Linked DNA regions of Homo sapiens. The protein of the gene in region 6 purifies or fractionates together with the protein of the main gene of each other region. This does not show direct contact. Each region holds a gene or a part of one and is shown on either strand. Other genes may lie near its edges.

Evidence for each region.
Region 1: the proteins of SPAG9 (region 6) and HAVCR2 purify together in Homo sapiens (co-immunoprecipitation; one large-scale study listed by IntAct). This does not show direct contact.
Region 2: the proteins of SPAG9 (region 6) and PPP2R2A fractionate together in Homo sapiens (co-fractionation; one large-scale study listed by BioGRID). This does not show direct contact.
Region 3: the proteins of SPAG9 (region 6) and PPP4R3A purify together in Homo sapiens (affinity purification with mass spectrometry, with the first as the bait; one large-scale study listed by BioGRID). This does not show direct contact.
Region 4: the proteins of SPAG9 (region 6) and RNH1 fractionate together in Homo sapiens (co-fractionation; one large-scale study listed by BioGRID). This does not show direct contact.
Region 5: the proteins of SPAG9 (region 6) and GAPVD1 purify together in Homo sapiens (affinity purification with mass spectrometry; 2 studies listed by BioGRID, with this or other methods). This does not show direct contact.
Region 7: the proteins of SPAG9 (region 6) and NCAPH purify together in Homo sapiens (affinity purification with mass spectrometry; 2 studies listed by BioGRID and IntAct, with this or other methods). This does not show direct contact.

What each region holds. Positions count from the first base shown.
Region 1 is NC_000005.10:157,088,151-157,092,248, forward strand, and holds part of HAVCR2 (hepatitis A virus cellular receptor 2 precursor), read right to left. Parts: intron 828-4,098; coding exon 791-827; intron 1-790. UniProt on the Homo sapiens protein: Cell surface receptor implicated in modulating innate and adaptive immune responses. Generally accepted to have an inhibiting function.
Region 2 is NC_000008.11:26,297,539-26,301,780, reverse strand, and holds part of PPP2R2A (serine/threonine-protein phosphatase 2A 55 kDa regulatory subunit B alpha isoform), read right to left. Parts: intron 1-4,242. UniProt on the Homo sapiens protein: Substrate-recognition subunit of protein phosphatase 2A (PP2A) that plays a key role in cell cycle by controlling mitosis entry and exit. Involved in chromosome clustering during late mitosis by mediating dephosphorylation of MKI67.
Region 3 is NC_000014.9:91,461,523-91,465,764, forward strand, and holds part of PPP4R3A (serine/threonine-protein phosphatase 4 regulatory subunit 3A), read right to left. Parts: intron 3,898-4,242; coding exon 3,728-3,897; intron 1,356-3,727; coding exon 1,213-1,355; intron 718-1,212; coding exon 527-717; intron 86-526; coding exon 1-85. UniProt on the Homo sapiens protein: Regulatory subunit of serine/threonine-protein phosphatase 4. May regulate the activity of PPP4C at centrosomal microtubule organizing centers.
Region 4 is NC_000011.10:496,769-501,010, reverse strand, and holds part of RNH1 (ribonuclease inhibitor), read left to right. Parts: intron 1-356; coding exon 357-527; intron 528-1,011; coding exon 1,012-1,182; intron 1,183-1,825; coding exon 1,826-1,996; intron 1,997-2,077; coding exon 2,078-2,248; intron 2,249-2,383; coding exon 2,384-2,554; intron 2,555-2,869; coding exon 2,870-3,040; intron 3,041-4,242. UniProt on the Homo sapiens protein: Ribonuclease inhibitor which inhibits RNASE1, RNASE2 and angiogenin (ANG). May play a role in redox homeostasis. Required to inhibit the cytotoxic tRNA ribonuclease activity of ANG in the cytoplasm in absence of stress.
Region 5 is NC_000009.12:125,268,071-125,272,312, forward strand, and holds part of GAPVD1 (GTPase-activating protein and VPS9 domain-containing protein 1), read left to right. Parts: intron 1-865; 5' UTR 866-914; intron 915-4,242. UniProt on the Homo sapiens protein: Acts both as a GTPase-activating protein (GAP) and a guanine nucleotide exchange factor (GEF), and participates in various processes such as endocytosis, insulin receptor internalization or LC2A4/GLUT4 trafficking.
Region 6 is NC_000017.11:50,984,578-50,988,819, forward strand, and holds part of SPAG9 (C-Jun-amino-terminal kinase-interacting protein 4), read right to left. Parts: intron 2,661-4,242; coding exon 2,535-2,660; intron 1,202-2,534; coding exon 1,121-1,201; intron 414-1,120; coding exon 346-413; intron 1-345. UniProt on the Homo sapiens protein: The JNK-interacting protein (JIP) group of scaffold proteins selectively mediates JNK signaling by aggregating specific components of the MAPK cascade to form a functional JNK signaling module.
Region 7 is NC_000002.12:96,355,949-96,360,190, reverse strand, and holds part of NCAPH (condensin complex subunit 2), read right to left. Parts: intron 1,147-4,242; coding exon 998-1,146; intron 49-997; coding exon 1-48. UniProt on the Homo sapiens protein: Regulatory subunit of the condensin complex, a complex required for conversion of interphase chromatin into mitotic-like condense chromosomes.

The DNA.
Region 1 (4,098 bases), on a different chromosome or scaffold from region 6:
CCTCCCACCTCAGCCTCCCAAAGTGCTGGGCTTATAGGCGTAAGCCACAGCACCTAGCCCAGAATCATTTTTGTAATCCAAATATATTGTATTCCATTCATGTGCCAAACATCACTAAAAGTCTAAAATCTAGTAAGTTATGTAAGCCATACCTATTTGAAATGGATGTGTGGGTGTGTATAATCAGGAACGAAGGTCAAGACAGGAGTCTATAACAGACTAGCAGTTCTCAGCCCTGACTGTTCACTAGAATCACCTGGAGAGCTTTTAGAACAATTTCTATGCTTAGGCTTCATCCCCAGAGATTCTGATTCAGTTGCTCTGGGGTTGGCCCTGCATTAGTACACTTCAGTGCCTGGGTGATTCTAATAGGAAACTAAAGTTGAAAATGCCTGGGCTGTTTACAGAAATGCTGAGAACAGATACTGGGTTTCTTGCTCACTTCTGTAACGCCTAAGTGCAGCCCAGACCCTGGATATAATAGGAGCTCAATCCGTTGATGTTTCAGTTCAGTGGAAAAACCATTAATATCGAGATGAATAAGCATGTTGTATTATTAGGGTGATAAATTCTATACCTTAACTTTAGAACTAAAGAAGCTAGAGGTGTCAGGAAGTACACACAGTAGCATGTTACATTTTCACTTCATAACTAGACCTAGAGAAAGAAGGAAGTATAAACTCAGATCTCAAAGCCCCAGGACAGGATTTCTCAGAGAAAAGATCAGACATGTTAGAGTAGGGACTTCCAAGATTCTCACCTTTTCCCAACCCCATTCCATTATTCTTACCTTAAATTCTGTATCTTCTCTTTGCTATGAGAATACCCTAGTAAGGGGGAAACAAAAGCCAATAAAAATGCATTCATAAAATAAATGAGACAAGAAATCAAATAGGTTCACTGGAAGCACGCATAGTTTAGGGAAATCTGGTCTCATCTCAGATTGAGTTAAATGAAACTCTCAACGTGTGCCTTAGATAGTTATATGGACTGTGTTAGAAAATAATAATAAAGATGCATTTTTCTTATTTAACAAATATTATGAGACCTCTACTATGTGTCTGGCAGTTTGCCTGGCACAAGGAACACAGGAACATAAAAGTGAATTGTGAGCCCTAATTTCACGAAGCTCACGCTCTCCTGTGGGAGACCAAAGAAATAAAAGAAAACAGTACCCCAGACCCAAGACCAGCCTGACCAACATGGAGAAACCCCGTCTCTACTAAAAATACAAAATTAGCTGGATGTGGTGGCCCATGCCTGTAATCCCAGCTACTCGGGAGGCTGAGGCAGGAGAATCACATGAACCCGGGAGACGGAGGTTGCGGTGAGCCAAGATTGCGCCATTGCACTCCAGCCTGGGCAACGAGAGCGAAACTCCGTCTCAAAAAAAAAAAAACAACAACAAAAAGGAAATAGTAAATAGGAAAACAAAATAATTTCAAATTATGATGTATTATAAAGGAAACCAACATCATAGTGAAACAGATAATAGAGAGGGTGGTCAGGGAAGGACCCTCAGAGATGAACTTTAAGCTCGTTTCTGAAATGAGTCAGCCAAGTAAAGAGCCAGAAGGAGCATTCCAGGATGAGGGAGCCCCTTGTAAAGATCTTGCTGAGTACCTGAAACTGAAAACGTGGCTGGATTAAGGGAGCGGCCCAAGATAAGGTCTGAAAGGTAGGCTGGGGCTAGGTCCAATAAGACCTTTCCAGCCATAATCAGGAGTCTGGATTTTATTCTAAGACCTGTAGGAAACCTTAGATTTCCTTGAAGGGCAGAGATGTGATCCTTATTTGTTTTGGGTTTCTTTTACCCGCTGAAAACAACTACGTTATCTCATCATTTCTGTGTTGTGGGTCAGGAATCCAGGTGTGGCTTACTGGGTACCTCTGGATCAAGGTCTTTCAAGGTGTCTTCTGGGGATGCAGTTTCAAAAATTTGAAACTTAAAATTTTCCTTTCTTTTCTTTTCTTTTTTTTTTTTTTTTTTTTTTTTTGAGACAGGGTCTTGCTCTGTTGGCCAGGCTGGAATGCAGTAGTAAGATCATATCTGATTGCAACTTTGAACTCCTGGGCTCAAGGGATCTACCCATCTCAGCTTCTGAGTAGCTAGAACTATAGGTGCACACTACCACAGCTGGATAATTTTTTTTAATGTTTTTGGGCTGGATGCAGTGGCTCACGCCTGTAATCCTAGCACTTTGGGAGGCAAGGCAGGTGGATTTCTTGAGCTTGGGAGTTCGAGACCAGCCTGGGCAACATGGTAAAACCTCATCTCTACTAAAAATACAAAAACTAGCCAGGTATGCTGGCACATGCCCGTGGTCCTAGCTACTTGGAGGCTGAGGCAGGAGAGTTGCTTGAACTCGGGAGGTAGAGGTTGCAGTGAGCCATGATCACACCACTGCACTCCAGCCTGGGTGAATCTCAATATGTTGCCCAGGCTAGTCTCAAACTCCTGGCCTCAAGTGACTCTCCTGTCTTGGCCTCCCGAAGTGTTAGGATTATAGGCATGAGCCATTGTGCTCAGACATTGATTTGGGTTTTAATATTGGATTCGAAGGAGGAATAAAGAAATGAGAAGATAAATTAAGTAGAAATAATGGTGTCTTGGAGTAAGGAATGGCCAAAAGAGATGCAGAATAATGAAAACACTTTAGATGTATGTTGGAGGAAGACTGCAGGAATCTTCTGTTGTTGTTTTTCTCTGAGACAGGGTCTCCCTGTGCTGTGTCACCCAGGCTAGAATGCAGCAGCAAGATCATAGTTCATAGCCTCAAACTCCTGGGCTCAAGTGATCTTCCTGCTTCATTCTCCTGAGTAGCTGGGACGATAGGCGTGCACCACCATACCCAGCCCTAAGGAATCTCAACATCTAAGGATCAGGCAGAAGAAGATCTGAAAAGCAATGGATCAAAGAGAAGAATGTCATTTCAGAAGCCAAGAGAAGGAGGACTTTCTAGAATGAGTGATCAATTTAAAAGGTTGACTATAATAAAGATAAAGGTATCAGGCTGGGAACGGTGGCTCACGCCTATAATCCCAGCACTTTGGGAGGCCAAGGCGGGCAGATCATCTGAGGTCAAGAGTTTGAGACCAGCCTGGCCAACATGGTGAAACCCCCGTCTCTACTAAAAATACAAAATTAGCCAGGCATGGCGGCACATGCATGAAATCCCAGCTACTCAGGAGGCTGAGGGGGGAGAATCACTTGAACCCGGGGAGGCAGAGGTTGCAGTGAGCCAAGATTGCACCATTGCACTCCAGCCTAAGCAACAAGAGTGAAACTCTGTCTCAAAAAAAAAAAAAAAGATAAAGGTATCTGTTAATATTTAATTTAGAAAACTGAAGGTCAGTGGTGAGCTTGACCATTTCCGTTGTGCTTTGGAGCAGAAACTAGATGATGGTGGGTCAAGGAGTGTAGATGGGTGAAAAGTAGAGACAACTCCTTTGAAAAATATGGCTGTGAGAACGAGTTGAGAAATGGGACTAGCTGGAGAGGAATGCATGGACTAGAACATATATTCTGCTAATGAAAATAGCATAAACAGAAAAGGAGAGAGATGACTCAGAAGAAAGGGATAAAAAGAAGGATGAAGTCTTGGCCTAGGCAATGGAGATTAAAAAGCCCTTTCATATTTCATCAGTTAGGAGAGGGGCAAAGAAGTTTTGAGCAGCAGTGAGGTATGGATGGTCATCTCAGAGAGTACACTAGAAAGATGGAAGATTGTGGGGCATTATTGAGTGTCAGTTTGTTTTTGTGAGGTCATGACTTAAAAAGCTGTCACCTTGATTTTAATATTTTCTCCAGCAACTTCCAGGGAAAAGATTGGAAATGAAACAGGCCTTTCTTATCTGTACTTCTCAGTAGCCATGTTTTTTTGGAGTGGCATATATGTGTGTGTACAAAGCATCAGATTTCCTCTAGATCCCATCACTCTTTATACAAACTAGAATAAGTGCTAATATGTATAAATTATGGTCATATTATATATATATATATATATATATATACACACACACATATATATATAAAGTGGTCTCTAATATATATAATAGTAAAGCTCAAAGTTTTACTTTGAGCCATGGCAGAAGTCA
Region 2 (4,242 bases), on a different chromosome or scaffold from region 6:
TAGTTTTTACTTCACAGACATTTGGAATGAGTTCAGGGGTTGCCAGACGACATTTAGAGAACCACTGGACTAAATGATATCAATTTTGATGGCAGCTACGGACTCCGACCAGAGAAATGCACATATGTACAATCACACACAATTTCACACACATCATCAGAGGGTTCACAAAGCCCTTATAACCCATCTATATATAGCACATCTCAGCTAACGAACGCCATCAGCAGACCAGCCTGGGCAACATGGTGAGATCTGTCTCTACAAAAAAAAATTTTTAAAAACTAGCCGGGCGTGGTGGCCTGTGCCTGTAGTCCCAGCTACTCAGGAGGCTGGGGCAGGAGGATCGCTTGAGCCTGGGAGGTTGAGGCTGCAGTGAGCCATGATCACGCCATTGCACTCCAGCCAGGATGACAGAGCAAGACCCCGTCTCAAAAAAAAAAAACAAAAAAAAGAAAAAGGAAAAAAAAAAGAATGGCATTAGCTGAAAATTCAACAAATCTCCAAATTATATTTAATTACTTCAAAATAAAAAGTATCTACTAGGCATTACAAATAAACCTTGTTATAAACAGGAGTTGCAGTTCAACATCAAACGCCTTCACCTGAACTAAAAGGAGATTAAGTTTTGAAATAAAATTATATTAGGAAAAGTGAAAGGTCTAAGGTAAGAATCCCAGCTTCACCACCTGCTCAAGATTATACAGTTAATTAACTTTCCCACCAGTATCTACTTATTTCACAGGGTATTTGTGAAGAACAGTAAATAAATAGATGTAAAGGACCTAAAACAATGCCTGATACATAGTTAAGCACTCAAAAAATGTAGGTACTCAAGATGGCCATGCCATGCCTTCCTTACAATGACTATATAGCAGTTTATTTATAGAAAATCTAATTTGCACCTAGGCTTTTTCTTTTCTTTTCTTTTTTGAGATGGAGTCTTGCTCTGTTGCCCAGGCTGGAGTGCAGTGGCACGATCTCGGCTCACTGCAACCTCCACCTCCCAGGTTCAAGCAATTCTTCTGCCTCAGCCTGAGTAGCTGGGACAACAGGCGCGCACCACCACACCCGGCTAATTTTTGTATTTTTAGTAGAGACAGTGTTTCACCATATTGGCCAGGCTGGTCTCAAACTCCTGACCTCGTGATCTGCCTGCCTCCGTCTCCCAAAGTGCTGGGATTACAGGCGTGAGCCACCGCGCCCCGCCAGCTTTTACTTTTCTTTCTGTCTGCTGAGGAAGCACCTTATGGATACTTGATTACTTAATTACAAATTCCATCATCACCTTAAAGGGCAACGAGATTACAGTTGAGGATATTAACTAAAATTTTTTAGCTATTTCCAATCCTTCAGTTTTCCTATTTAACAGCATTAAGAAACGTACCTTTCTTCCTACAATCAACTTTAAGATAAACTAGGCAAACACTTATATGCAAATACGTAACATACTGTAACCTCTTCACTGATTTAATACATTTTTGCTTCAACCTCTCATCATTCTGCTTATTCCACAATTTTCAAGAACTTGATTTTAATATTTTGTTCACTATTACAGAGTACTAAGAAACACCTAAGGCTAATTTTTGTTTTATTTTAATAACATGACAAAATGTCAGCAATATGTTTTCAATGGCCATTCTCTCTCATAATTTTTTGTCAAATGAATGTGAAAAAACTTAGTATTTTAAAACAAAGCAAGAAAACTATTTGATGCTAAACAGATACTATCATTCATGGTATTTAATGGGTAAACTTACACTACTACTTTAAGTGACTGTACTGAGTGAGGTCTACTAGACTTCAGTAGTAATGCTAGTGTTAAGAAAAAGAAGTGTCACATGTCATACAAGGTAAGGATATTAAATAAGACCTTTACCATAGGTCATTAGGTTTCGGAATACAGCTAATGTGCCACTATTTTTAAATCCACAAAACAACAGGGTTCTACTTTTTCTACTAACTTACCTTACTGCCTAAATCTAACATGCATACTACTCTAAGAAACACAGAAGACGGCCTGGGCAACACAGCAAGACCTTGTCTCTAACAAAAAAAAAAAAAAGAGATGCAGAAGAGAAATGATTTTAAATTGTTTACATTATAGCATTAAACATATGGAATGGACTAAAACCATTAAATTGTGTGAGATATCATAATATGGACTGTTTTTCAAATTTTTACTTATGTCCTTATTTGGGGCATATTTTAGCCTCTACCATTTAAAAAATATTTTTTCAAGACCCAGTCCACAAGGCTAAATCCTACCAAAAGTAAACAGAAAGCAAAGAGTTGAAAACACACAATGTACTTGGATCCAAGTTTCATAAAATAAGACTTTATAAGATAATATCCTAAAATAATTTCCTGTGAAAGTTTAAGACTATCAAATATGCAGATGAGGTTCATTATTAAATATTTAATAACATCTGATATTTTAAGATTACTAAACAATGAAAAATCTACATTAAAATAATTAAAATAACTATCTTGAATGGTTAAGTTGTTCCTTTTTTTTTTTTGAAACAGAGTCTTACTCTATTGTCCAGGCTGGAGACCAGTGGCACAATCACAGCCTAACTGTAGCAGACCTCTCAGGCTCAAGTCTCAGCCTCCTTAGTAGCTGGGACTACAGTTGCACACTGCCATGCCCTGCTAATATTTTTAATTTTTGTAGAGAAAAGGTCTCACTATGTTGTCCAGGCTGGTCTCAGACTCCTGGATTCAAGAGATCCTCTCGCCTGGCCTCCCAAAGTGCTGGGATTACAGGCGTGAGCCACTGCACCTGGCCTGTTCTATTATTTTGACCAATTATTACACACTTCAGATTATCCACATGTATTTGAATTTTTAATAATTTATTTCCACAAGTAAAATTTAAACACATTATCAAAATCATTAGAAAAAATTTCTTACTGTTCGACTTTAAGAAATGAACTTGGCTTTCTATTTTGTTAAATTCAGATTTTAAAAACAAGTATTACATTATTAAATAACAAAAGGATGGGAAAGGGTCCAGTGATGGAACCATACATGGGGCAACACTGGCCATTGACAACGCCGGGTGACAGGGGTTCATTATACTATTCCACATACTTTCTGTAATGTTCCAGATTGATTACGTTTTTTAAAAAACCAAATAGTCAAATTAACAAACAAGCAATTACTGTATTACCTTGAGGATGAAATAAACACTGCAGAGCACTACTGGTTCAGCAGAGAATGTGTGCGTGGTCATAACAATTTAAGCACTGACGTCCAATTTAATCATAGTGTGTGATGTAACATCGGGGCACAATGGGGACAGAAATGGGGGTGATAATGTGAATAGCTTAGTTATCATCTACTAGAGGAGCAAGTCAGCTGGAAATACTAAAATTGACAAGATATAGAAATACCATTTTATTCCCAAAAAGGAAATGAAGCACCAAGGAACCCAGCGGAAGAGTTGAACAACTGCTCTTAGGAGATGGACTAGGGATTAAGGAGTGGGGAGGTAGGGGACTGCCATTTTTCATCCTAAACCCTTTAATACATTATTAGATTTCCAAAAACTTCTTACTGTAAAATGTAACAGATAAAGAAAACCAAAAATTGAAACAAAAATGTCCAGGTTACTCTTTACAAACATCTGTACAACCACCATCCCAGTCAAGATAGCCCACAAGGGCCTCCCCAGCCCTTCCCGATCACAACTCCTTTCCAACAGCTTAAGGGTAGCCACTATACTGACTTTTATAGTACTTTTTACAGTATGTTTTTTTCCTTTTACTTCATAGCTTTTCTTCATAGTTTTACCAGCTGCATATGTGCCTCTAAACCTATAGCTTAATTTTGAATGTATTTTGTAATTTACTAGTGGAATCAAAGAGTATGTATAACACACATATATGCTATTTCCTTCACTTTGAGAAATTTTTAGTAGGCTTTAAAGACAAATCCTCAATATACTCATACTCCAAAGACTCTTCCTTCAAAGTAACAATAATATGAAGGTTCAAGTAATAATATCTAAATCCTCATAAGGCTCTTTTCTGCTGGGTACTGTTCTGTTTTATGTGTATAAACTCATTTAATCATCAAAACAACACTGTAAGACAGGTTTTATTGTTATCCTCATTTTATAGAGGGGAGCTAGGCACAAAGAGATGACCACAGAAATGATAAATGACTGAGCAAGATTCAAACCATGTAGCCTAGCACCTGAGTCTGTGCTCTTAACCTACTGTCTCATGACAGACAGTT
Region 3 (4,242 bases), on a different chromosome or scaffold from region 6:
CTGGACAGGGAAAGCTTGAAACTTGGGCTCTGCCGTCCAGAAAGGTTTGTTTTCAGAAGCACTTCCTTTTCCTCACTTTCTTTTACTAAAAATGAGAATACTGTCAATAGTCGTCCCCCATACTTCTTTTTTAAATTTCCCCAAATGAGGTAACACTAAAACACATTTAACTAGCTTACTACGCTGGGTAGAAACATTGAAGTTCAATTTATAAAAGAAGCTTACCAAAATACTAACCACAATTCCATTCATTGGATCTTACCCCAGAGAAGAATTGAAACCTTCAGAATCATATTTAGTATCCCTACCCTTCCTGAAATAGTATATTCCTTATTCAACTCAAATTAAGAAAACTTAAGTTTATGCCTACACAACACTGCTATTCAGTCACATCCCATAAAGCAATAGAGTCTTTAAACCGTATGCCATCACACCTTCCAAGCAAATAATCATTTTGTCAAGAAATAAGAATAAATCTAGAGTAAGAAAGCCTTAATTTTCTCTTGCCCATTTTTTTCCAACATACATTTCTTCCTTTCCATGAATTTACTTATTGGATCCATAATATCATCATCATTTTTAGTTTTGTCAGATGGAGACACTACAGCTTCTCCATCTTCCATGTCATCTTCATCTGTGTTAAACCACATCTCTTCTTCATCTTCTAGTGTTCTGGCATCTCTTCGATATCTGTGATTCCTCAAAATGGAACGCATACTATGAGTAGGGAAGAAAGAGTAAATACAATCATATATGGACTTAATTGTACTGTTACAGATGACTTATTAAACTTGTTAACATAGGGAATTAACATGAAATTTACAAATATTAAAGTATCAATGTAAATCCAGGTATTTAGATTAATGTACAAAATTTTAAATAATAATTTGTAACCTTAGTAACTTGTAAATTCAAAGCAAGTAATATAATCCTCTGATTTTATTTGGAACACATGAAGCCTCACTTCCACTGTTTGGTCTTTTTTTTTTTTTTTCCCTTATCTAGCCTGATACATGCCTGAGGTATTATACTAATAACCAGCCTAATCTTCAGGGAAACATTTATGTTGACCCTTACAGGAAGCTACAATTTCTATTTGCTATCTGCTGATTTCCCTGTTCCTTGTCAAGCCAAATAATATCAAATAAACAATAAAGCCACTACCATACGACTTGATGCTGAACGAATAGGTTTAAATATATGGTAATTTACCTGTCAAGTTTGGGATTATCTTGCCTTTCTCTTTGTTGTTCAAATCTCAGTTTTAATCCTTTAAATGTCTGTACATAATCTACATCTTCCAGTGCTTTCCAGTAATTTTCAATTACATGAGCAGTTAATGATTTTATATCTTCCTACAGAAAAGAATAGTAATGAAAAAATGATAGGAAAATGTCATTTTAGCAAGATGAGGCTTAATTTAATCAATTCATACCCACCAAAAATAGCTTAATTTAATAAAACTACATAATCTTAGAGATAACCAAACAATAAAAAATGGGAATAACGTACACTGGCTACTATAGTAGTCCCCAATTTATCTATGGGTCTTTTTTTTTTGAGATGGAGTTTTGCTCTTACTGCCCAGGCTGGAGTGCAATGGCATGATCTCGGCTCACTGCAACCTCTGCCTCCTGGATTTAAGCGATTCTCCTGGCTCAGCCTCCAGAGTAGCTGGGATTACATGCATGCACCACCACGCCTGGCTAATTTTGTATTTTTAGTAGAGATGGGGTGTCTCCGTGTTGGTCAGGCTGGTCTCGAACTCCCGACCTCAGGTGATCTGCCTGCCTCGGCCTCCCAAAGTGCTGGGATTACAGGTGCGAGCCACTGCACCCAGCTATCTATGGGTCTTTACAAAGTAAATGCCCAGGTCTTGCCCTAGGTGATTCTGATTCTGATGTGCGGGCTGGGTATGTGTATTTTTTAGAGATGGGGTCTCGTTCTGGCACCTAGGTTGAGATATAGTGGTATGATTATAGCTCACTGCAGGCTTGAACTCCTGGGCTCAAGCAATCCTCCCACCTCAGCCTCCTGAGCAGCTAGGACTATCGGCATGCACCACCATACGGGGCTAAGTTTTAACAAAAAATTTTTGTAGAGATGGGGTCTTGATATGTTGCCCAAGCTAGTCTCTAACTCCTGGCCTAAAGCAATCCTCCCACTTTGGCCTGCCAAAGTGCTGGGATTACAGGCATAAGCCACTATCCCTGGCCATGGACATATATGTTTTATTAATTAATTTTTATTTTAGGTTCAGGGGGTCCATGTGCGTATTTGTTATACGGGTAAACTGCGTGTCACAGGGGTTTGGTGTATAGCTTATTTCATCACCCAGGTAGTAAGCACAGTACCCAATAGGTAGTTTTTCAATCCCCACCTTCTCCTACTCTCTACCCTCAAGTGGCTCTGGTATCTGTTGTTGTTCCCTTCTTTATTTCCATGTGTACTCAAAGTTTAGTTCCCACTTACAAGAGAGAACACACAACAGCCATGCGTATTTTAAAAGCATGTCACAGGCCGGGTGAAGAGGCTCATGCCTGTAATCCCAGCAGTTTGGGAGGCCAAGGTGGGCAGATCACCTGAGGTCAGGAGGTTGAGACCTGCCTGGCCAATAGTGAGACCCTATCTCTACTACAAATACAAAAATTAGTCGGGTATGGTGGCGCATGTCTGTAATCCCAGCTACTCTAGAGGCTGAGGCAGAAGAATCGCATGAACCTGGGAGGTGGAAGGCGCAGTGAGTCGAGATCATGCCACCGCACTTCAGCCTGGGTGACAGAGTGAGACTCTGTCCCCACCCCCCTCCCTCACCCCCCAAAAAAAGCATGTTACAGAAAAGTTCTGGAGATGAATAATGGTGATGGCTGCCAACAATGTGAATGTTTACTTTAAAATGGTTAAAATAGCAAGTTTAATGTTTTATATTATTTTATCCCAGCTTTTAAAAAAGCACGACATCCAGGTACTGTGGTATGCACCTCCAGTCTCAATTACTTGTGAGGCTAAGGTGGGAGGATCGTTTGAGCCCAGCTGGGCAACATAGCAAAACCCTGTCTCTAAGAAACAAACAAAACAAAAAGCCATGCCAGATAAATTTGCACAGCATCAATGAGAACCACTAGCTTATTACATTACTAGAGAATAAAGAGTATTATGAAATTGGTCTTTAGAAATGTGTAAGTTAAGAAAAACACATTCAAATGCTTATCTGTCAAGTGTAGTTTTGCTTTCTTAAAATGATTACTGTGACCATCCTACAAAGCAGCAGTCCCTAACCTTTTTGGTTTCATGAAAGACAATTTTTCCACCAACTGGGGTGGGAGTGGGGGAGCACAGTTTCAGGATGAAATTGTTCCACCTCACAGTTAACCAAAGGGTTCATGCTCCTAGGAGAATATAATGCTGCTGCTGATCTGATAGGAGGTAGAGCTCAGGCAGTAATAATGCCTGCTTGCCAGCAGCTTACCTCCTGCTGTGCAGCCTGGTTCCTAACAGGCTATGGACCGGTCCGCGGCCAAGGGGTTGAGGACCCCTGCTATAACAGATTTGTAGCTGCTGAGAGGTAAGATGTAGCTTGACTCAAATCTCTCACAGGCTTTTAGTACTTTTTTTTTTTTTTAAATCTCTCCAAATATTATCATCTCAAGCCAAAATACTAGGTAATGCATATTCAATTTTCTCAAACAATTAAAATGAAAATTCTAATTAAAAATACAGAACCTACCACTCTAATAAATTCAAACATCTCTATTATGGCAGAGTTCATCAGATTGTAGCGGGATCCATTGTTGAGAAATGCTTTCACTACTGGTTCAAACAAAAAACTTTTCATTATGTAGCGGTTGTAAAACTCATCTTTTAATCCAATAATCTTTCTTTTAAAACGAAGGGCACCTGAAACACAGAGGCATGGTTGTTTAAATCACATACCACTCTTCCATACTTTAGACTTACCAAACAAAAATAACCATCAAACCAAAAAAAACTGTTTAACACATATCAATAATTATTTATGATGTTTGCACTTCCGGAACTGTGAACCTAAAGATAAGGATTATGAAAATGTTATCAGAAAAATGTCTTCTAAAAGTAGTATATGTCATCATAGAACACAAGTCTTAGAAAGCCAGAAAAATCCTGAAAATAAACCAGTTACTAATGACCAAAATGTAATTTACATCTAAAATAAGAGCTAAGACAAATGAATGAACCTATCACACTACTTAAGATGAAAAAATT
Region 4 (4,242 bases), on a different chromosome or scaffold from region 6:
GATTATGGGCATGCGCCACCACGCCCGGCTACTTTTGTATTTTTAGTAAAGACGGGGTTTCTCCATGTTGGTCAGGTTGGTCTTGAACTCCCGACCTCAGGTGATCTGCCTGCCTCGGCCTCCCAAAGTGCTGGGATTACAGGCGTGAGCCACCGCGCCTGGCCACGTGCGAGCATCTTAAACAAAACTTTCATGGAACAGTTCCTCCTTTTTGTTTCATTTCTGAAATGTCTTGTGTGACTTGCCTTGCTGTCTTCTGGGCCCACTGATAGGTTGTAACCTGCACGTGGGGTGGTGGTGGAGGCTGAGGCCAGTGCTGTCTGCGTGGTCCACATGACCCTGGGGTCTGCTCACAGGCTGGACGACTGTGGCCTCACGGAAGCACGGTGCAAGGACATCAGCTCTGCACTTCGAGTCAACCCTGCACTGGCAGAGCTCAACCTGCGCAGCAACGAGCTGGGCGATGTCGGCGTGCATTGCGTGCTCCAGGGCCTGCAGACCCCCTCCTGCAAGATCCAGAAGCTGAGGTGAGGCGGGGCCTGGCACTGCCTCTGGCCTGGTGCAGTCTGCTTTGGTAGCCCGGCAGCAGGGGACAGAGCCGCCAGGGGCGCGTGGGCAGCTGCAGGTGGACAGGCAGTGGCAGCAGACATTTCCAACATCAGCCAGAGGCACACAGGCCTGGCGGTCTCACAGCGGGGGGGACAGGGCCCTTCCTGCCTTATCCCAGCCCCCGCACCCAAGATCTGGCCCTGCCCGCCATCCCTAGCCTTCCAGCATCACCACAGACCCCCACTGAAAGGTGTGTCTGCAGACAAGGTTTCCCTGGGTCGAGCCACATGCGTGCCCTCCTTCACTCGGCCTGGAGACCCCAGACCCCAGAGCCCCGTCCAGGGAAGGAGCAGGTATAGACCTGCCGCCTGAAGAGTGCTGCTCCGGGCTCTGGGCTCTGGCAGGCGAAGGGCGTGGCAGCTTGGCTCAGGGGAGCCCTGCTGACAGCCAGGTATGCTCCAGCCTCCAGAACTGCTGCCTGACGGGGGCCGGCTGCGGGGTCCTGTCCAGCACACTACGCACCCTGCCCACCCTGCAGGAGCTGCACCTCAGCGACAACCTCTTGGGGGATGCGGGCCTGCAGCTGCTCTGCGAAGGACTCCTGGACCCCCAGTGCCGCCTGGAAAAGCTGCAGTGAGTTTGTGTCCTGCCCCAGGGCCCATGCTGGCCGCTGCCTGTCCCCCAGCCAGCCCCCTACATAGAACATCGCCTGCCAGGAGCCGTGAGGAGGGGACTCAGGTCACAGGGGCCTTGTGGTGCTCTCCTTTCCCCATGATGCTGGGTCTGGGGCCTTGTGGTGCTCTCCTCTCCCCATGATGCTGGGGCTGGGGGGATCTGTCATCACCCTCCCTCCCCATCCAGTTGTCCTTTGCAAGGCACAGCTGCCCCAGGACCCGACGGTGGGAACAGATGCCTGGCCGTGAGTCAGGTTCCACTCACCGCCTCAGTGTGTGTGGGGGACCCGGCCATTGTGAGTTGACCACAGCCTGGGACGTGCAGGTGGCCCTGCCCTCCAGAGGCTGGTTTCTTTCTCCCGGGCCTGGTTGGGCCCCAAAGTCTGAGGTCCGGGAGGGGGTGAGGGGTTTCCAGAAGGAATGCCGGTGTCCACAGAGGCCCGGGCCTCTGGATGAGTCTGTGGGGGTCCCTCAGCACTGACACCTGATGCCCAGGCAGAAGACTGAGGGGAGATGAGACACCAGCACACCCCGTGCTCCCTGGTATCACACCCTTGGCTGGTGCACATTCCTGTGTGGTGCTGAGCTCTGCTGTCCCCCAGGCTGGAGTATTGCAGCCTCTCGGCTGCCAGCTGCGAGCCCCTGGCCTCCGTGCTCAGGGCCAAGCCGGACTTCAAGGAGCTCACGGTTAGCAACAACGACATCAATGAGGCTGGCGTCCGTGTGCTGTGCCAGGGCCTGAAGGACTCCCCCTGCCAGCTGGAGGCGCTCAAGTAGGCACTGGGCCTTGGGGGGGTGCGGGGTGTGGGCTAGGGGGGGTCCCGTGCTGCCTCACGTGTGACCCGTGTCCCCAGGCTGGAGAGCTGCGGTGTGACATCAGACAACTGCCGGGACCTGTGCGGCATTGTGGCCTCCAAGGCCTCGCTGCGGGAGCTGGCCCTGGGCAGCAACAAGCTGGGTGATGTGGGCATGGCGGAGCTGTGCCCAGGGCTGCTCCACCCCAGCTCCAGGCTCAGGACCCTGTGGTGAGTCATCTCCGCGAGGCCTCCTTCCCGGAGGGTCGGGCGGCGGGCCGTCCTCAGAGCTCTCCCCCGCCCCTGGGCTCATCTCAGGCCATGAGACGGTGCTGAGGAAAGTCTGTGGTGGTCCATGTCCTGCAGGATCTGGGAGTGTGGCATCACTGCCAAGGGCTGCGGGGATCTGTGCCGTGTCCTCAGGGCCAAGGAGAGCCTGAAGGAGCTCAGCCTGGCCGGCAACGAGCTGGGGGATGAGGGTGCCCGACTGCTGTGTGAGACCCTGCTGGAACCTGGCTGCCAGCTGGAGTCGCTGTGGTGAGTGTGGCTGTCGGGGCAGGGCCCTGTCGCCCAAGAGAGGGCCAGGGTGACCGAGGAGACCAGGGGAGGAGTGAGCGACTCCAGGGAAGCTGCTGGGCTCAGCTCCGACCTTCAGAATGCATAGGCCAGGGAGCAGCCTGTGGTTTGATGGGAACAGTGCTTGGGGCCAAGGACCAGGTGTAGGTGCCCACTTGCTGGGAGGCTGTCAGATGTTTTTGCTCAGGTCCACGTGGGGCCTTCAGGGGAAGGGCCAGTCGCAGCTGTGGGCCAGCCTGGGCCCCTGCCAGGCGTCAGTCCTGTCTGTGTCCACAGGGTGAAGTCCTGCAGCTTCACAGCCGCCTGCTGCTCCCACTTCAGCTCAGTGCTGGCCCAGAACAGGTTTCTCCTGGAGCTACAGATAAGCAACAACAGGCTGGAGGATGCGGGCGTGCGGGAGCTGTGCCAGGGCCTGGGCCAGCCTGGCTCTGTGCTGCGGGTGCTCTGGTGAGTGTGTGAGGGACACGAGTATGCACATTTGGGAGATCATATGCCCGTGTGTGCACACAAGGGCGAGAGTGCACGAGTATCTGTGTGAGCACGAGTGTCCGTGTGTATGTGAGCACACATGGGTGAGGCGAGTGTGAGCACGTGTGTGAGCATATGAGTGTGAGCATGGGTGTCCGTGAGCATGTGAGAGTGAGCACGTGTCCGTGTGAGCACGTGAGTGAGCACGAGGGTCCGTGTGTGAGCACATGGGCAAGAATGAGCACGAGTGTCCGTGTGTGAGCACATGGGTGAGCACGTGTGTGTGAGCACATGGGTGAGAGCACGAGTGTCCGTGTGTGAGCACGTGAGAGTGAGCACGAGGGTCAGTGTGTGAGCACATGGGCAAGAATGAGCACGTGTCCGTGTGTGAGCACGTGAGAGTGAGCACGAGGGTCCGTGTGTGAGCACATGGGCAAGAATGAGCACGAGTGTCCGTGTGAGTGTGAGCACATGGGCGAGAGGGAGCACGAGTGTGTGTGAGCACATGGGCGAGAGAGCATGAGTGTCCGTGTGTGAGCACATGGGTGAGAGCACGAGTGTCCGAGTGTGAGCACATGGGTGAGTGAGCATGAGTGTCCGTGTGTGAGCACGTGAGAGTGAGCACGAGGGTCCGTGTGTGAGCACATGGGCAAGAATGAGCACGAGTGTCCGTGTGTGAGCACATGGGCGAGAGTGAGCATGAGTGTCCGTGTGTGAGCACATGGGCGAGAGTACGTGAGCACATGGGTGAGAGTGAGCACGAGTGTCCGTGTGTGAGCACATGGGTGAGAGTGAGCATGAGTGTCCATGTGAGTGTGAGCACATGGGCGAGTGAGCACGTGAGTGTGGCACATGGGCGAGAGTGAGCACGAGTGTCCATGTGAGTGTGAGCACATGGGCGAGAGTGAGGGTGCATGTTCATGTACTGGGAAAGGCGGGCTGGCGGCACCACTCTGGCTTAGTTCTCATTTTAACTCTGAAAGTCAGAGGTCATGTTTCATGAAGCCTGAGAGCTTCACGGAGCTCCAGCCTACCTGGCCACCCTGTGGTCCATCTTCCTGGAAGCCCCGCCCACCTTTCTCCCTTGCGGGAACCCCGCCTGTGTCAGGATGTTTTTCCAGATTTGTTTTCTTTGTTAAAGCACGTTCTTTTGCAGCTTTCTAAGAAAAGGTTTTGCAGGA
Region 5 (4,242 bases), on a different chromosome or scaffold from region 6:
GGAGAATCGCTTGAACCCAGGAGGCTGGGGTTGTAGTGAGCCGAGATCACGCCACTGCACTCCAGCTTGAGCAACAAGAACAAAACTCTGTCTCAAAAAAAAACAACAACAAACAAACAAACAACCCCCCCCCCCAAAAAAAAACCAAGAACTTTATTCTACTGGTGCTTTCTTAGCCACCGTCACAATGTTGTCACTTCTCACTTTACGCAGCTGGCTCCACTGAGGGTTTGTGAGCTGGTCTCCAGTGATGGCACATAGTTCTTATTACCTTACATGGTAACACTACCTGATCATGGCGTTCTGGAAATTGTGACAATATGTACTGATCTTTTGTTGGTGCAACTAACAATACAAAAGTTGCTGCTCTGTAAATGTATGCTTCAGTTTCATTAGTTTATTTGGAATAATTACCCCTAACATTGTTTTTTTTTTTTTTTTTTTTTCGAGACAAGGTCTTGGTCTGTCATGCAGGCTGGAGTGCAGTAACGCTATCACAGCTCACTGCAGCCTCCACCTCCCTGTCTCAAGAGATTCCCCTGCCTCAGCCTTCTGAGTAGCTGGGACCACAGGCACATGACACCATGCTTGGCTAACTTGTATTTTGTATTTTATTTTTGTTTGACCAGACGAGTTTTAAATACAAGTTTTGTAGTTTTTGTAGAGGTGCCCACACTGGTCTCAAACTCCTGAGTTCAAGTAGTTCATCTGCCTCGGCCTCCCAAAGTACTGGGATTACAGGCATGAACCACTGCGCCCAGCTACTTGTAATGTTTGTAGGTAGTTTAATAGCGAAAGTAGGTACATTCCAGTGATAAGACATTCAGTTTATTATTTTTTCCTTTTTCCTTTTTTTTTTCTTTAGGGGTAAGTGTACTGGAGAGAGTTGGTTATACATTCTAGGAATCTCAAAGGTAAAGTATGATTTAAAAATATTTTTTTAAAATAATTTTTTTAAGTTTGCCTACAGCTACAAATTTTTAAGTTTTATGTAAGTGGAATCCTTTTTTTTTGAGACATATTCTCACTCTGTCATCAGAGTGCAGTGGTGCCATCATAGCTCACTGAAGCCTCAAACTCCTGGCCTGAACAGGGCGATCCTCCTGCCTCAGCCTCCTGAGTAGCTGGGAATACAGGAGCATGCTACTTTGCCCAGCTGAGTCCTTCTTATTTGCTTTGGACAGACTAGTACTTGAAAAAATAATTTTCAAATGTTTAGTTGAGTGTTTTTTTTTCCTTCAACTTTTGGGAGGCTGTTTTTTTGTCATACATATTTCCTTCTCTGGAGTTAATTTTCTGTTAAGCAAGAAGGATTTCAGTTATGTATTTTTTACACTTGAACTACCTAAACTTGTGCTTGCATAGAATTATTTTCAACTTTAACTCCTTAAGTAATCGTTTTCAGGATATTTTAGTTTTTGTTCTTGTTTTTTTTTTGAGTTGGAGTCTCGTTCTGTCGCCCAGGCTGGAGTGCAGCCTCCCGAGTAGCTGGGATTACAGGTGCTACCATGCCCTGCTCATTTTTTATATTTTTAGTAGAGACAAGGTTTCACCATGTTGGCTAGGCTGGTCTTGAACTCGTGACCTCTGGTGATCCACCCGCTGTGCTGGGATTACAGGCATGAGCTACCATGCCTGGCTTTTTTTTTTTTTTTTTTTTTTTTGGAGGCAGAGTCTCACTCTGTTGCCCAGGCTGGAGTACAGTGGCATGATCTCTGCTTACTGCAACCTCTGCCTTCCAGGTTCAAGTGATTCTCCTGCCTCAGCCTCCCTGGTAGCTGGGATTACAGGTGGCTGCCACCATGTCCAGCTAATTTTTTTTATTTTTAGTAGAGACGGGGTTTTACCATGTTGGCCAGGCTGGTCTTGAACTCCTACTCTCAAGTGATCTGCCCGCCTTGGCCTCTGGAAGTGCTGGGATAGGTGCAAGCCACCATGCTTGGGCAGATGTTTTAATTTGTAAAGGAACTAGGACCAATAATTTTTTTTACTGTATACACATTTTAGAATAAGTTTTAGGCACCTAGCTGTTTGATTTCTGGTAACTAAGATTATAGTCAGTTAAACTTTACTGCTGGCCAGGCATGGTGGCTCATGCCTGTAATCCTAGCACTTTGGGAGGCCGAGGTGGGCGAATCACTTGAGGTCAGGAGTTTGAGTCCAGCCTGGCCAACATGGAGAAACCCCGTCTCTACTAAAAATACAAAAATTAGCTGGGTGTGGTGGCGCACACCTGTAGTCCCAGCTACTTGGGAGGCTGAGGCAGGAGAATTGCTTGAACCTGGGAGGCAGAGTTTGCAGTGAGCTGAGATTGTGCCCCTGCACTCCAGCCTGGGTGACAGAGCTAGAGTCTGTCTCAAAAAAACAAAAACAAAAGAATCTTTCCTTCTTTATGCTTACCTATATTTTCTAACTTTTCTGGATATGTTTCAATATGTATTATGATTTTGTAAAAAATTTCAGAAGGGTGGTTATTTTTTGTTTCAAAGCTGAAACCCAGTTTAAAACTCTAATACAGTGGTCAGAGGAAGTGGTGAATATCTTGATACTTCAGTTTCTAATATTTAATATATATATAAGTGAATGGTTGAGGCCGGGCGCAGTGGCTCACGCCTGTAATCCCAGCACTTTGGGAGGCTGAGGCGGGTGGATCACCTGAGGTCAGGAGTTTGAGACCAGCGTGACCAACATGGAGAAACCCCGTTTCTGGTAAAAGTACAAAATTAGCCAGGTGTAGTGGCACATGCCTGTAATCCCAGCTACTCAGGAGGCTGAGGCAGGAGAATCGCTTGAACCTGGGAGTGGGAGGCAGAGGTTGCGATGAGCCGAGATCGTGCCATTGCACTCCAGCCTGGGCAACAAGAGCGAAACTCCATCTCAAAAAATAAAAAAGAATGGTTGAGTGAAGGACTTAACAGACTACATAGGGGTTTCTATAAATTTTTTTTTTTGAGTTTGAAGATGAACCAGATACCTGATAAATGCTTGTGTCTGAAAGAAAAGTATAAAAGTATAATTTAATTCTAATACTCTTTGTGTGTGTGTGTGGCCAAAATTATGTTTTTGTATACCTTTTTTTGTAAGCCATTTAAAAAATACAGGCTTTAAACATACTCTTGGAAGTGTATAAACAGATACTGTGTCTGCTTGTTAATCTAAGATGTCTGTCCGAAAAGGTGCTTGCTTGGTCTTGCTCCCTTATAATGCCGGTACACCCACGCTGGAGACTAGTAGAAAGCATGTTGTCAGACGTGTTTAGTTCTTTTTTTTTTCCTTACCAACTTATGTGTTGTTATTTATTTTCTGTGAATCTTTGGAAGGATTAAACCCACGTGGTTTTTCTATCAGAAAAAAGACAAAACAAAATTAGTCAAGGCATATTAGTCTTTTTCCTTTTTCCTAGGATCAGAGTGTAGTAATATCCTGCCAATCTTAATTTTAACAAATACTTATATTTTTCGGACTTAGATTAACTTATTTTTTTATTTTTTATTTTTTGAGACAGACTCTTGCTCTCTTGCCCAGGCTGGAGTCCAGTGACCTGATCTTGGCTCACTGCAACCTCTGCCTCCCGGGTTCAAGCGATTCTCCTGCCTCAGCCTCCCGAGTAGCTGGGATTACAGGCACCCACCACCACACCTGGCTAATTTTTGTATTTTTAGTAGAGACGTTGTTTCACCGTGTTAGCCGTGCTAGTCTTGAACTCCTGACCTCAAGTGATCCACCTGCCTCGAGTGCTGGGCTTACCCACCGCACCTGGCCCTCCTTTCACTTTCTAATGCAGAATTCTAATCTATCCCTTTGTTTTACTTGTGTTATTTATATTTACTTACTTCCATTATCTTGGCTACTTTACAAAAATGCATTAGGTCTAAAAGTTATAACATTTAAGGCTGAATTGCCAAATGTTTAAAAATATAGATTTCTGTACCAGAAAAACTTTGGAAAAACTACATTAATTCTTTTTTTTTGAGATGGAGTTTCACTCTGTCTCCCAGGCTGAAGTGCAGTGGCATGATCTCGGCTCACTTCAACCTCTGCTGCCTGAGTTCAAGCGATTCTCCTGCCTCAGCCACCTGAGTAGCTGGGATTACAGGCGCCTGCCACCCTGCCTGGCTAATTTCTGTATTTTTAATAGAGAAGGGGTTTCACCATCTTGGCCAGGCTGGTCTTGAACTCCTGACCTCGTGATCCACCCGCCTCGGCCTCCCAAAGTGCTGGGATTACAGGCGTGAACCTCCG
Region 6 (4,242 bases):
CGGGAGGCTGAGGCAGGAGAGTGGTGTGAACCCGGGAGGCGGAGCTTGCAGTGAGCTGAGATTGCGCCACTGCACTCCAGCCTGGGCGACAGAGCGAGACTCTGTCTCAAAAAATAAAATAAAATAAAAGCACCATAAAATGCCCATTGTGGTAAACACATTTTCCCTAAGGTATCTGTTAATGTATACCTCCATGCACGCACTAATATATTTACTGATGTTGTGTATTGTTAGTATTTATTCTTTAAACTGAGTATCATTTCTTTAAAACATAAACCAATCTACTTAAAAATGCTTTGCAAAGCAACAAATTAGTGTCCATGTTATACACACATCACCACTCACCCACTCCTCTGTGAAAGATTGCAAGGGTGCCGTCAGCCAGGGCTACTAACACGATTCCCTTCACGTGTCTGCAAACAGGAAAGGGGAGTTCAGAACTCTCCATTCAGGAATACAGAAGGGACCACATGCTACTGAACTAGTTCAAGGCCTCACAAAGGGCCAATCTGTGATGAGTTAAGGAGCTGACACCTGAATATAAATGAACACACCACTTTCTTCACTGTGGATGTCCTGCTATGAAAAAATGTCAGCTGAACTAAATAAACAGTATGAATGGTATCTCAGTTATTTCACTTTCTGGCCCAAGGTTCTCCTCTCATCACAGACAATCAACACAAACTCTAAAGACCAGAGACATGCACCTTGAGTGGAACCAACAGAGTCAGCCCTGTAGGCTCAGAGATAAACTGTCTGATTTTTTTACAGTGAACACATAGAAAAGAACTAGTAATCAATGCCCCAATCAACATATTTACAAGCCATAAAGAATATTCTAAAATAAACATAACTTAATAGGTATTGGTTATTTCCTGCAGTGCTAAATAAATCGCAGTATGGTGAGGACTCAATCAAGCAAGTTATCCTTTCTACTTCGTTTTCTATTATACAGTTTCATTCTCACTTAACTTCTCTAGTTCCATAAAAAGGGTTAAAAAAACAAACAAATTGGATACTAATTTAGTCGTGAAACATGTATTAGCTTTCAAAGTCTTAAAATCTAGTTTATACCAAAATGCATAGTTTTAACAAGAAGAATTTCCAAAATAAAACTTACACAATACTGAGAATCGAATCTTTAAGTTTAATGGAATGGAGACATTTCCTCCACTGGGCTACAGATGAATGGACATACAAACTGTAAGAACAAAGTCAACACTGGTAAGGCATAGAGAACATCAAGACATTGCATATATCTAACAATGATCGCGAAGTTCATTCAGAAGGAAAGAAGAGTAACATACAAATTTTAGGAAAAGGTGCTGCTGCTTTTGTGCAATGGTCAGAAAAGAAAAATGAGAGTGAGGGTAGGCCTAAGGTAAAGAAATAGGCTGCTGAGCAAAGAAAAACATATGAAGACTGAAAAGCAAGAACTAGTGCAATGCACAGTCAGGTTCACACACTTAGTCCTTGGGCAAAACTCTTTTTTTGAATTGCCTTACCTCTCTACTACACTGATCTATAACTTTTGGATGACAGAGTGGCCCACATAGGGAGTGGCAAACTATGGCCTACAGGCCAGATCCAGTCTGCCACCTGTTTTAATCCAGCCTGCAAGCTAAGAATACTTTTTACATTTTTAAAAGTGTGTGTGGGGGGGAAATCAAGGGTATTTTACGACAGGGGAGATTTATATGAAATTCAAACTACAATGCCCATAATGCTCTACTGGAAGAGAGTTACACTAAGTTTGCCAACTCTTCACTTTATAGTATTGGACTCATATGAAAAAGACATACTACAGGTTGAGTAACCCTTATTTGAAATGCTTGGGATTTCTGACTTTTTCAGATTTTAGAATGTTTACATCATACATAACAGTTGAGTATTCCTAATTCAAAAATCCAAAATGCTCCAATGAGCATTACCTGCCAGCATCATAACAGTGGTCAAAGAGTTTTAAATTTTGGATTAGAGATGCTCAACAGTAATCTTGCTTAACCTTTGTAAATGCACAATTTTGTAAAACTCTCCACACAACCGGAAAGTGAACAAACCATATAATATTAGTCATCATCATCTGACTTTGCAGATTGTGATTTGTTTTACCTATCTTAGTAAAAAATTCACTAAAAGTTGGGATTGGGCCTTCCTGCAGCCAAAATGTTGGTTTAATCCCTGTTTTCCTGCCCACATTCTAGCCTACATAAATTAAATATTCTCTGTCTTTGTGCTGTTCAGGATCTTCTATTTCTGGAGCACCTCGATTTTAAAATTTTACATACCTCTTCTTCCAAGAATATTATAGAAAGGGAACATTCTGTGACAAAGAAACATATGGCTTACTATTCAGAACCAGTGCAAGTCCAGTTTATGTGGTAGTTGCAACATAACATCAAATTGTGTGTATATATAAAATTCTTTGCATTAATCCACACTTTTTGTATTTGTTTACCATATTTTACTTATCTTCTGATTTCAAAAGCAAAAGTAAAACAACATATTCTAATGTTAAAAGCATTGACACCTACCAGCCATTTTGAGCTCCAAGCCACATAGTTGGTAAAAGACTACTCATTTTCTGGGCTTCTTCTCTCACCAAGTCTTGTTCATTTGGCAGTACTGATATTTGATCTTTATATGCATCTGAGTCATTGCTGGAAAGGGAGGGCAAAAGGAAAGAAATCTGAGTATACTTAACTATCGTTATAGTTTTCAGGGACTGAATCCTTCTATATTTAAGTTTGTTCATTTGTTTATTATTTATTTATTTTTTAGAGATAGGGTATCACTCTGTCACCCAGGCTGGAGTACAGTGGCACAATCAGGGCTCACTGCAGCCTTGACCTCTCAGGCTCAAGTGATCTTTCCACTTCAGCCTCCTGAATAACAGGGACTAGAGGCACACACACTATCACACCTGGCTTCAACTTTTAGTCAAAAAAAAAAAAAGAAACCACCAAAATTCCAGAAAAGCCAAAGTCAAAAGCTTACATCACATATTTCAACAATTGTACCAGAAATAACATTAACAAACTAGGAAGCCCAAGGAGCAGAAAAGATAATAAGACATGGTAATGAAATACAGCAGTTAATATTCAGACAATTACTATGGCTGTCTCTTATTTTGGGTTTTGTCATAGTTTCTTCTCAAGTGAGAGAGAAGGGAGGGATACACACATACAAATAGTAGGGAGAAATATAAAGAATGACCTAAAATAAATTAATAAACTGAAATATGTTTAATATTCTATCACAAAACCTTTCCTTTGAATTGTCAGGGCATATTTAGTAAAAGATATATAACCAGGCTATCAAATTCAAACATGACTTATTCTTAAATTAATAATTCAGGCCAGGTGCGGTGGCTCACGCCTATAATCCCAGCACTTTGGGAGGGTGAGGTGGGTGGATTTCTTGAGGCCAGGAGTTCAAGACCAGCCTAGCCAACATGATAAAACCCCATCTCTACTAAAAATACAAAAATTAGCTGGGTGTGGCAGCACATGCCTTCAATCCCAGCTACCTGGGAGGCTGAGGCAGGAGAATCGCTTGAACCTGGAAGGCGGAGGTTGCAGTGAGCTGAGATTGCACTGCTGCACTCCAGCCTGGGTGACAGGGTGAGATTCCATCTCCAAAAAAAAAAAAGAATTAAATATTAACCCATTTATGCCGGAGGTTGCAAATTTTTTTTGTAAAAAATCAGACCTTAGCGATGACCTTGAGCAGTAGGATATGAATAACTCCCACAAGCTTAGCATTCCAATAATGGACCACTAGGCATAAATGGGTTATTAATTAATCTTTCTTACTTTATACACTAAGAATATTAAACTTTAAAAAGGATCTAGTTTAAAGAGACTCTCATCTAGAGGGGATCTAGAAAAGGCAGGAAAGAAAATAAAATAATTCACTAAATGGGCCTAGATTAACCAACCCTTTAACGGAGGAGCCTAAAACAAACAGTTTTCTTTGGTTTGTTTGTTTTCTGAGACAGAGTCTTGTTCTGTTTCCCAGGCGGCAGTGCAGTGGTGATATCATGGCCCACTGTAGCCTCCAGCTCCCAGGGCTCAAGCAATCCTCCCACCTCAGCCTCCTGAGTAGCTGGGACCATAGGTGCACGCTACCACGCCCAGCGAATCATTAAGTTTTTTGTAGAGATGAGGGTCTCACTATGTTGCTCAGGTTGGTCTTGAACTCCTGGACTCAAGCAATCCTCCTGCTCAGACTCCCAAAGTG
Region 7 (4,242 bases), on a different chromosome or scaffold from region 6:
CTTTTTTTGTACTCTTCTTTTTGTTTTCTGATTGGGAAGGAGCATCTTCTGCAGAGTGAACACAGACGTCAGCACTTCACTTCTGTGGCCTAAACTATTTACTCATTTCACAAGATCTGCTGACAGCCTTATCAAGGCTTATCAAAACCACAAGGCAGCATTGTGTCTGAGCATCACAACAGTAGGAGTGCTCAATCACACACCCTCTTTTCATCCTAAACTTATAATTTGTGTTTTGGCTAAGAAAACACATCAGAAACATATGCTTGGCCAGGTGCAGTGGCTCATGCCTGTAATCCCAACACTTTGGGAGGCTAAGGCAGGAGGATCACTTGAGGCCAGGAGTCGAGACCAGCCTAGGCAACAAAGCGGGATCCCATCACTATGGAAAATTTAAAAATTAACTGAGCATGCTGGCATGCCCTTGCAGTCCCAGCTATTCAGAAGGCTGAGGTGGGAGGACGCTTAAGCCCAGGAGGTCAAGGCTGCAGTAAGCCATGATTCACCACTGCACTTCAGCCTGGGTGACAGTGTGAGACCCTGTCTCAAAAGCAAAACAAAACATAAAACAACAGATGCTTATCCCTTTCTTTCAAAGAGACAATGCAAAACACATAAGGTCAGCACAGCCCTTTGGAGTTCTACAGAATGCCAACATGTGCAGTAGCTCCTGTGTGCCCTCTAGTGCCCGGGGGTCATGCCCACCCGTGACCACTGAGTGAAGTCATGTGGATACTAGGGAGCAGTGTGAGGCTGGGAGTCCAGTTCTCCTGACTCCAGTACTCACTCTCCTCACTCAGAGGCTTCCATTTTCACTGTCCCTTCATCCCAGGCCAGGCAAACTGACCAACCAGGAGGCTGGCTCATCTGTATGCTTCCTCGGCTTATTAAGAGACACAACAGGGCTGTGACTGGCATTTCTTTTCCTTGGCTAACTGCTGACTGGCTGGTCATCTACACTACTTCTTTTCTTAAAATTCCACCTAGAATTACATACGTTTGCGTCGAGGCCTAAAGCGCCAGTGATCCGGGCCAGCCCACATCGACATGGTCCGAGGACTGAAATAAGAATATTCTCCAGGTTTCATAGACAGAAGGGGGCACATGGTCCTGATGTCTCCATCCCCAAGGGAAATCATTTCTTCCCTGTAACACACATATTTGTACATGTACAATACATATATTATAATGCTGTATTTACATATGAAGCATATGTCCGCAAATGAGCTGCATTTCTGTGAGTCCAATACAAATAACTTCATTATTAATAATTCCTTTTACTTCTCAAGTACTTTTCCTTCCCTTAATTTTATAACAATATAATCATATCTATACAAGTACTCTGGAAGTTTCAAAGTGCACCATAAAATGCTAGTCTACCTAATTTGAGAGACAAGATGACAAAAGTAAAGAGAATTCTTTTGGCTGGGCGCGGTGGCTCACGCTTGTAATCCCAGCACTTTGGGAGGCCAAGGCGGGCGGATCACAAGGTCAGGAGATCGAGACCACCCTGGCTAACACAGTGAAACGCCGTCTCTACTAAAAATACAAAAAATTAGCCGGGCGTGGTGGCGGGCGCCTGTAGTCCCAGCTACTCCGGAGGCTGAGGCAGGAGAATGGCGTGAACCCAGGAGGTGGAGCTTGCAGTGAGCCGAGATCGCGCCACTGCACTCCAGCCTGGGTGACAGAGTGAGACTCCGTCTCAAAAAAAAAAGAGAATTCCTTTGGGTAAGAATCTACAGCTAGTAAAATGCCGGAGCTGGGAGCTGGACACAAGTCCCTTAATCCCAGCCTCGGGGTCTTTCCACACACATGCTTCTTGCCACACAAGATGACAAATCCCTCATTCGTCACCATCCTTCTGTAAATGAGGGCTCCAAAAGATACCGCTATAGTTCCTACTAAAAGTGAAAAAACATGTTTGTCTAATTATTTAGTTCCTCTAACGCTTTGGGGGCTCCCCTTATAATCTGTTAGGTCATCCAGCTTTATTCTTTGCCGTGTGTAAAGTGTCTAAGTGGTCAGTGCAGCATGGCAGTTTCAGTTTGGTTTTTCACTCTTTCTACATTTTTAAAAAATAGAGATGGGGTCTCACTATGTTGGTCAGGTTGGTCTTGAACTCCTAGCCTCAAGCAATCCTCCTGCCTCAGCCTCCCAAAGTGCTAGGATTACAGGCGTGTCAGGATTATACCGTGCCCAGCCATTTTTCACTCTTTCCACAAGGTACAAGCTTTCTCCTAAAGGGCTCCAACATGTCAGAAAGGACGCTGGTGCTGCTGTACTGCCCTCTGAAGGTAAGGTAACCAAGAAGTTTCAGAAGAGTGGCCTTGTATTTGTATTGAGCCTACATATAGTTCCCGTTTATATAAGCCATATGGAATAAGCTAAAAAGGCTTTTAAAAGGGGATTTTGTCTTTACATACAGAATTTTAAAAAACAAAAACAGGAGACTACATTTGTGCATTTATTGTGTAATTAAAACCTAATTTAAAAAAATAAAATACACAATAAAAAAATCACATTTCTAGTCTGTATGGCCTAGTGCTGTAACAGAATCTGATACCTAGCATGTTATTAAGTAACAAATGCACTGTGCTGTGAACTCCAGAGGTAGAAGGAAGAAGTTTCAACAGCATCCCCACTCCATTCTGATGGATATTCTTCCATTAGGAAGAGTGGCTCCCATTCCCAATTCTGGTGATGGAGCTGGACAGAGGCTCTGCAGGATTTTTGAACTGTAGTAATTCAATAATTCTTTCAACATACAATGCTATGTCGCAGGCATCCTACCAGTCCCAATTTCACCACTCAACAACTAAATGAATCCACCTATAGTCCAAAATAGTCTATCCATTTTTCAAGGCTGCCCACTTCAAACATCTCCAGTCCCTCCAGGAAAACTCTGTATTTCTTCTATCCCCTCCCCATAATATCACAGGGTCCCTCCTTCAATTTAGCCATGGTTCAATCCACTGTCCTAACACTGGCAAGATAAGGTCTCCTCCCAGCTGGCTCAGCACATCAGGCAGCATGCAGCCGAATGTTTCATTCTCGCATGCGTGAAGTAGGCTGTGTTCTGGGCTTTGACCTCCGACTAGGTCATTAACCACAGTAACTGCCTTATGTAAGCATGCTGGTACTACAGAAGGGTCGGCCAGAGAACACTTGGCTCCAAGTGTTCTTGGGCTGCTGTTGCTGCTGCACAGAGAGGGAGCTCACTCTTAGACATCAAGCACTTTTGCAGACCAGTCCTTACCAATGCATGTGCACAAAGAGCTCCACCTTTTACGCTTGCAGTTGTCAATGTGCTGCCATGCAGAGACCAATAACGTGAGGCATCTACACAACACTGGTATTTATCACTCAGCATTGCCCCACCCCACCTTCATCCAGAGGCCTCCGAAGACCTCTCAGTAGAGTACAGTGGTTTTCAGCCCTGGGTGCAGAACACAATCACCCGGGGATGGTAACGTGATGTCTGGCCCCCTCTACCCACTGAGATGCTCAGGTGGTGTGGACTGGAGCCTGCCATCCAAAGCTCACTATATGTGGCCAGGACTGGTCAAAGGTGCTGGGTGGCAACCAGCTCCACCCCATTAAACTCTCTGAGCCTGTTTCCTCATCTGTAAAATGAGGATAATAGGACCTAATTATAGGGTTGCTGCAATAAAATAATTAATTTTAGATATTATGTAAATTATGTGAAATAACACACATAAGGCACCTGGCGCAGCATCTTGCACAAAGAATAAGGAGCTCAATAAATATCAGATATTGTTATTATCAACTGGTCCCAACCTTGCATTTTATGGATGAGAAAACAAAGACCGCAAAAGGTGATAACATTGCCCCACATCTCAGGGCTAGTAACGGCAAGATCAGATCTACTCCAGATCAAACACTCACTGAATTCCCAGGAAAGGCCAGCGATGTGGCAAGGGGAGGGGATTTAAGGATGGGTAAAATCTGAGACTAGAACTGCAGCCTCCCACGCCTAATGTACTAGGTAGGATAGAGTCTAAGATTTTGTGCTGTTTGGAATAGGGGAGAGAAGTGGAGACATTTGTTCAAAATAACCAGCAGAAAACATCTTCCAGAAACCAAATAAAAGTCATGGAAGCCCTTTGTTATTGTCAGTCCCTCAGATGTCACCTCACTGTTTAAGGAAAGTGATAGCTTTTCTCTGACATTTGAAAATGATGTTTTTAAGAGTTCATCCCATCAACCTATCATTTCTCCCTT